Linked DNA regions of Homo sapiens. The protein of the gene in region 2 purifies or fractionates together with the protein of the main gene of each other region. This does not show direct contact. Each region holds a gene or a part of one and is shown on either strand. Other genes may lie near its edges. The genes, in order: CYP24A1 and RBAK.

Region 1 (3,824 bases), on a different chromosome or scaffold from region 2:
GTTAGTCAGGCGTGGTATCGCACGCCTGCAATACCAGCACTTTGGGAGGCTGAGGTAAGTGGATCACCTGAGGTCAGCAGTTCGAGACCAGCCTGGGCAACATGGTGAAACCCCATCTGTACTAAAAAACACAAAAATCAGCCAGGCATGGTGGTGTGCACCTGTAGTCCCAGCTGCTCAGGATGCTGAGGCAGGAGAATCGCTTGAACCCAGGAGGTGGAGGTTGCAGTGAGCCGAGATCACGCCGCTGCACTCCAGCCTGGGGCAGAGTGAGAGTCTGTCTCAAATAAGTAATTAAAAAAAGTTACTTATATTTATCTATTTATGGCAATATTTCTGACCTTGAATTTATGGAAGTGTTATAGGTTTTCCTTCTATCCCTCCCATCAGCAGCCACAGTGATCCTCCCAGTAAATCTGCCCATATATCACACTGCTGCTGAATACATTCCCGCAGCTCCCGGTTACTTACAGGCTAAAATTCAAACTCCCGCTCATACAGCCCTCCATGAGCTGGCTGCTGGCCCTCTGCCAGCCTCTGTTACAGGATATGCTTGTCATTCCGCACTTCTTCTGCAGGGACACTCTCCTTCCTCCCTTTTCACCTGGTGAACTCCTACTCAACCATCAGGACTTAGCTGAGGGGCACCATCTCTGTGAAGCGACCCCTGGCCATGTCCGGCTTAGGTGGCCCTCTCAGATTCTCCCACAGCCCTGAATGTCCTCAGCCAGGCGCTGTCCCACCTGATCACAGCTGCCTGCTCTCCTCTTGCACCCCCATGGGCAGTGAGCTCTGCCCTTTATTTCCAGAGTAATCTTTGAAGAAAGCGGTCATGTCCTCCCTCCCTTACTTGCCCCATCTGAGTCAGATGAGAGGTAAAGTCTTGCCAGGACCTATGAGCTGTGCCCTGTTGGACACCTGCCTTCTTTTTGACCTCATCTCCTTTCACAGGCTCCCCTTCCTCCCAGCTTGTTCATCGTGATCCACTCACACCAGCAGCTTGAAGTTCCTCAAACTCGGCGCTCATGCTTCCACCTCCTGGCATTTGCACTTTCTTCTCTGCTGCCTGGAACAATCCTCCACAGGTACCCTCATGATTTGCTCCTTCCCTTCCTTTAGGACTTACCTCAAATGTCTTCTTACTAAAAAAGACTTGCCCCTCTTTCATTCTTTCATGTTATTTCTTTCTCTCTCTCTCTTTTCTTCTTTATTTCTTTTCTTTTTTCTTTCCTTTCTCTTTTTCTTTTCCTTCCCTCCTTCCTTCCTTCCTTCTCTCCCTCCTTCCTTCCTTCCCTCCCTCCCTTCTGCCTTCCCTCCCTCCCTCCCTCCCTCCTTCCTTCCTTCCCTCCCTCCCTCCCTTCTTCCTTCCTTCCTTCCTTCCTTCCTTCCTTCCTTCCTTCCTTCCTTTCTCTGTCTCTCTCTCTTTCTTGAGACGGGGTCTCACACTGTCACCCAGACTGCAATGCAGTGGTACAATCACGGCTCACTTTAGCTTCAGCGTCCCGGGGTCAAGCAATCCTCCCACCTCAGCCTCCCAAGTAGATGGGACTACAGGCATGTGCCACCAACCCTGACTAATTTTTGTATTTTTTGTAGAGACAAGGTTTTGCTGTGTTGCCCAAGCTGTTCTCAGATTCCTGGGCTGGCCTCAAGCGATCTGCCCACCTCAGCCTCCCAAAGTCCTGGGATTATAGGCATGTGCCACCATGCCTGCCTTTCATGTTCTTTCTTAACTCCCTTTCTCTTTTCCTTTACTCCTTGGAAGAGTATATTTTAAAATGTGTTTACTTGTTGACTGTCACCTTGTCTAGCATATAAGCTCCCCAAGGGTACAGGGGTTATGCGTTTCATTCATTGTCATATCCCTAGTACCTAGCACAGTGCCAGACACACAGCAAGTATTCAACAAATGTTTGTTGTATGACTCATTAACAATCCATAGTTCAAGGCATAACTTAAGCACCTAAAAGAAGCATTAAAAGGGCTGCTCTGGCCTTTCCCTAGGCAGCAATAATGCCTGTTTACAAAAGAGTTGTCAAAAGAGCCATGTTTTATCCGCAAAATCACCTGCAAAATCAGTGAGCAAGTCTGTGACGACAACTTACTTTCAAACGACCATTTGTTCAGTTCGCTGTACAAGTCTTCAACGTGGCCTCTTTCATCACAGAGCTCATCTATTCTGCCCATAAAATCGGCCAAGACCTTCAAAGAAAACAACCGCAAAAGACACATTTTAAAGCCGTTGAAGGAAAACAAAACTTTAAAGCTCACTGAGCTAACTTCAGGTCTTGCTACATCGCATATTCACTGGCCATAATGTTATTCATCCTGAAGTCACACTAATTATATATTCTCCCTGGGAACCCACCTTATCCCCTAATGACCTCGTCCTGGGTTATTTCCTGAGCTTTTCCTGAAGCCACCCTGAAGCTTAAGTTTCAGCTTTTGATCTAAAAATAATTCTGGCAATTTAAGAAAAGGAAAACATTTTTTTTTTCTAATCAGAATGGGGGAATAAAACCACAAAGGAATCAGCTAACTGTCCCTGTTGGCCCAGCATCTCAAGGATTGTGTTGCAGCAGCTATCCTGAGGTGTGCCCTTCCACATCTGGGCAAGCAAACGTCTCTTTATTGGTTGGTGGTTATGTTAAGCATGTTGAACTTGGAACCAGAAGATCTACCAATTCTGGACACAGCTCCTTCCCTAAGTAGTCTATGACCTTGGGATAGTCACATAAGACCTTTGGATGCCAGTTTCATAAACCAGAGTTTTCAATAACTAATGCCTCACATTTAATGAGGTCCATATGGTACCAAACACTGTACGAAGTGTATTGGTTGATCCTCTGACAACCAAGTAGTAGTAGGTACCGTCTCTACTCATTTCCCATGTAGTAGATGAGAAAGCTGAGGCTTAAAGAGGCCAAGTCACTCACTTATGCACACAGAGCTGATAAGTTGCCATCCTGGACCCTGCCGTGAGCTGGTGTGGCCATACAGCCCACATGTGTGGATTTAGTTTGCAAGTTTAATTTGCCCGCATAGCGCATTTAAAAGTTCTTTGAATTTGTTACCATTAAAAAAAACAAGAGGTTTCATATGAACATATGGATTTACCACTACTAGTTTAAAAATGTAAATAATAATTATGAGACTTGGTGACATGAGGTCTGCATTCTGACATGGCATTCGTTTGCTGGAACTGGGGCTGCTGTCCCTCCTGGGAGGGGCATGCACTATCACGTTTCCTGAAATTTTTACTGGGTCTGCCTTATTATTTTATATTAGTCATGTGAGCCCTGGAAGCTTCTGAGTTTGCAATCCTTCACCTATATGATCCCATCTGGGGACGCATCCAGTTCAAAATAAACATCCAAAGTGAACAGAAGTAAAAAGAGATTACTTTATGCTTAAAACTCCCTTTGACTCCGTGCTGGCTAAGGGATAATGTCCAAATACCTTAGTATAATACAAAAATATTGTTAAGACCTATCCAGTATCATTTCAGAGAAAGCCTCACATCAGCTACACTAAATGACCGATTCTCTGAACACACCACGTCATTTCATGCCTCCCTGTTTTCAGAAGGCTACTCTGTCTGCCTTAATGCCTTCCCCCACTTTCTCTGCTTTCAGACTCCTCCTGCAAAACCCAGCTCAAATATCACTACTTAAGAACTTTACAATGTTATCTCATTTAATTCTCACAGCAAACCCGTGGGGTGGGAACTGTTACTCCCATTTTGTAGATGGGGAAACTGAGGCTTAGGGAAGGTAAGTGGTATATAGCCAGGTCTCATAGCCAGGGAGTGGAAAGCTGGGGTT
Region 2 (3,824 bases):
CGGCCAAGTTGGGTGGACCACTTAAGCCCAGGAGTTTGAGTCCAGCAACACAGCAAGACGCTGTCTCTACGAAAAAAATAAAAAAATTAGACAGGTGTGGGGGCATGCACCTGTAGTCCCAGCTACCCAGGAGGCTGAGGTGGGAGGCTCGTTTGAGCTCAGAAAGTCGGGGCTGCAGTGAGCTGTGATTGCACCACTGCACTGCAGGCTGTGGTGAGAACTTGACTCTAAAAATAAGAGAAAGAAAAACAAAAAACAAATGCCTTCCCACCAAAAAAAAAAAAAAAAAAAAAAAAGAGGCACACAGTCTATGCCATCCAATGTCACGTCCTTCTTGCTGTGCTTTTACAAGCTCAGCCAGCCCTCACCCAAAGTGTTTTTTTTTTTTCAATGGTGCAAAGTTTTGCTGACCTGTTTCTTTCACTCACTTACATCTGGGCTGTTAACTGTGTATCTGAGATTTGCTCAAATATTTAGCTGAATACTTTTAAAATAATTTTCCATCAAATCCAACTCAGCATTATATTCATTCACTGCCAAGAAAGGTCACCCCTACAGTAAAAGTTAAGATGAATCCCGAATTCAGAAATGCAAAAAACAATTTGTTTAGGGAAATATGAAATGTTACACATTAGCTTCTTTATTGAAGAGGCAGCTCAGACCTATTTATATATGCAAAAGTATAGGATGACAAAGTATGTAATGATTCTTTAACCTTCTCAAATATTTCACTTAAAATATACATTATGCTAAGCTTTAAGGACAGCGTAGGAAATCTTAGTAGTTGCCATCAAAATTACTATAAATATGTATTTCCTGCACAGAATTATGCAAAATCTGCCATTTAATTCCTGTTGTGCAGCATATTCATACACATCTAGAAAAATATGATTAGAGTGATGAGCGACACAAATGTTAGCCATTTGTGATTTTAGAAAACTTTTATGGAAAGTTTAACACACATGCAGAAAAATACACATATCTTAAGTGCACAGCTCAAAACACACTCAAATACTTAGCACCTAGGTTTAGAAACAGATTATTCCCAGCACCAGATAAATGCCCCCTTTCAGCCTTGGCCAAGGCTAACTGCTACCCTAATTTTAAACCACGTATACAAGTTTTGCCCGTCTTTATAATTTATATAGAAGGAATCATACAGCATGTTGGCTTTTGTGTCTGGAGTCTTTCATTCAGCAAGGTTTGTTAAATTCAGCTGCGTTATTACACGGACTTCTAGTTCATTCATGCTCACTGTTTTACAGTATTCCATGGACATATGCCACTTCTTTATTCATTCCATTGCACATGTGCCTTAAGATAGTTCTGTTTTGTGCAGTTTTAGGCTATAAATATTCTAGTGCATGTCCTTTGGTGGACAGACACATGCATTTTTGCTGGGTTTGGGTAAAACAGTATACATATGCTTGGCTTTTAGTGCCAGCTTTCAAAATGGTTTTATCGATGAGCAATTCCACCAGTAGTGTACAGTTCCTCTTGCTTACATCCTTGCCAAAACGTGATGCTTTTTCATGCTTTTCATTTTAACCATTTCCATGGATGGGTAGCAGTGCTACATGTTTTAAGTTTGCATTTCCCTGATTACTAATAAAGCTAACACATCTTTTCATGCTTATTGGCCGTCTGGATATCCTCTAAAGTGAGTGGATATCCTCTAAAGTCTTTTGCCTTTTCCAGTTTCCCCCTTGTTGATTTGTAGGTGCTCTTTACATATTCGAGATCAGGGACCAGAAAACTATGAGTGCAGACCAAATCCAGACTGCCACCTGGGATTGTGAATGGTTTTACTGGGAAGCAGCCATGCTCATTTTTTTTTTAATGCATGGTGTATGGATGCTTTCACACAATAGCAAAGATGAGCAGTTGTGACAAAGCTGAAAATTTTCACCATCTGGTGCCTTGCTTTATAAAGTTTGCCAACACTTCTGCTATACTCGGTGCTGTTGTCACATACATGAACTGCAAATATCTTCTCCTCCCCATGATTTCCTGTTCATTTTCTTACTGGTGGTCTTTCTGATAAATAGAAGTTCTCAAATTTAATATTAAGTTCTAATTTTATGGGTTAATGCTTTTTGGGTCTCAATAAACCTTTGCTTACTCCAAGATTACAAACTGTCCTAAGATTTCTTTGTAAAGCTTTCACATTTCATATTCAGATCTGCAATCCACCTCCAAATAACTTTTTATCAAATTACAAAATTTTATTGGCAAAGTACATTTACTGGAAAGAACACCCTTTCCCCCACTACACTTCAATGTCACCTTTCTCAAAACTCAGGTGATGGTATACACGTGGGTCTACTTTTGAATCTGTATGCTGTTCCACTAGTCAGTTTTTTCATCCTTGTGCCAAATTAACACCTTCATTATTTCTATGGCTTTATAACAGGTCTTGATATTTAGAAATTTCAATCCTCTCTGTCCATTCTACAGGATAGCCTTGACAATTATTCGACTTTTGAATATGCATATGAATTCTAGAATTAGCTTGTTAATTTACATTAAAGAACTTGCTAGGATTTTAAGGTTGCAATGAATTTAGGAAAAAGCAATAGTTTTGAGATTGTCCTGGAATCCTATCCCTCTCCTCCTTTGTAATTTTATTTTCTGGATACAGTTCTTCAAAGCATATTAACTCATTTTCTCCCTCTAGGCACTTGAGGGATCTTTGAAGTGGCATTGCTTTTCAAAATTTCATTTTCCATGTTTTTTGCTGGTATATCATAAAATGCTTTTTGCATAACTTTTATGCAGGGAACTTACCAAATTTACTCATGGCATCTGCAAATAGAGATTTATATTCTTTTTCGTTTTTAAAGTTTTACTTCTTTTCTAATCTCTATGCCTTTTGTTTCTCTTCCTTGCATTAGTTTTCTGGTTAGGTCCTTCTGAACAATGCCGAATAAAATCATTGACAGCAGATATCCTTGTCTTATTTTTATAATCTTAGGAGAAATGTTCACTATTTCATCATTAAGCATATTGTTTGTTGTAGTTTAAGTCTCTTTATGCAGTTAAGTAAGTCCCTTTCAATCCATCATTTGCTAAGATCATAAACGAACATTAATTGTACCACAAGAATGTTCTGCATGCCAGATTACTTTTCTACAGGTGGTGTATAATAGCAACTGACTTGTGAATATTAAGCCACCTTTGCATTCCTGGAACACAATCTATTTGATTACCATTTTACCTTTTCCCAGAACAAGTCCATCTTTGTTTTGTTTACCCAGTATCAGGTCATATGACCACTATAAAACAAGTTACTGGCAAAGAGAATGAAATCATTATTATTTTGACTAATCAGGATTCCCCTGTGTCATGTGAAGAAGTGGTAGGTACCTAAACTGTTCCAGCAAGAAATGGAGCGAGGACATTAAGTTAATTGATCAAAAAATATCTGCTAGAAACTTGAATCAATTTGTTCTGAAATACTGGGAAAAAGGAGAATGCACAAAACAATGACACTGTATTTGTACCAAACAGAAGTTTGTGAATAAAATTTCTAAATTACAAAATATTGGCACTAGGCACACTCAAACCTATGGGTTAAAAAACAAGGGTGGTGTGAGAGCTGGGGATATTTTAGAGTATGGGCAGTATGCTTGTTCTCTTTCACTGAAATAGACTTAAACAATTCCAAATTATGTATGTATAGTTTATCAAAATAGTCTTTTAGAAAATCTTATCTTACTCAGATGCAGTTGAAAACTTTACAAAACGACTGCCTCCTGTACTAATGAGGCATTTGTTAAAAACCCATTTGTAAATTCCTCTAAATAGAAAACTAGGTATTTTAC

What was found.
Region 1: the proteins of RBAK (region 2) and CYP24A1 purify together in Homo sapiens (affinity purification with mass spectrometry; one large-scale study listed by BioGRID and IntAct). This does not show direct contact.

Annotation. Positions count from the first base shown.
Region 1 is NC_000020.11:54,167,487-54,171,310, forward strand, and holds part of CYP24A1 (1,25-dihydroxyvitamin D(3) 24-hydroxylase, mitochondrial isoform 1 precursor), read right to left. Parts: intron 2,203-3,824; coding exon 2,106-2,202; intron 1-2,105.
Region 2 is NC_000007.14:5,066,269-5,070,092, reverse strand, and holds the end of RBAK (RB-associated KRAB zinc finger protein), read right to left. Parts: 3' UTR 606-3,824; downstream 1-605. UniProt on the Homo sapiens protein: May repress E2F-dependent transcription. May promote AR-dependent transcription.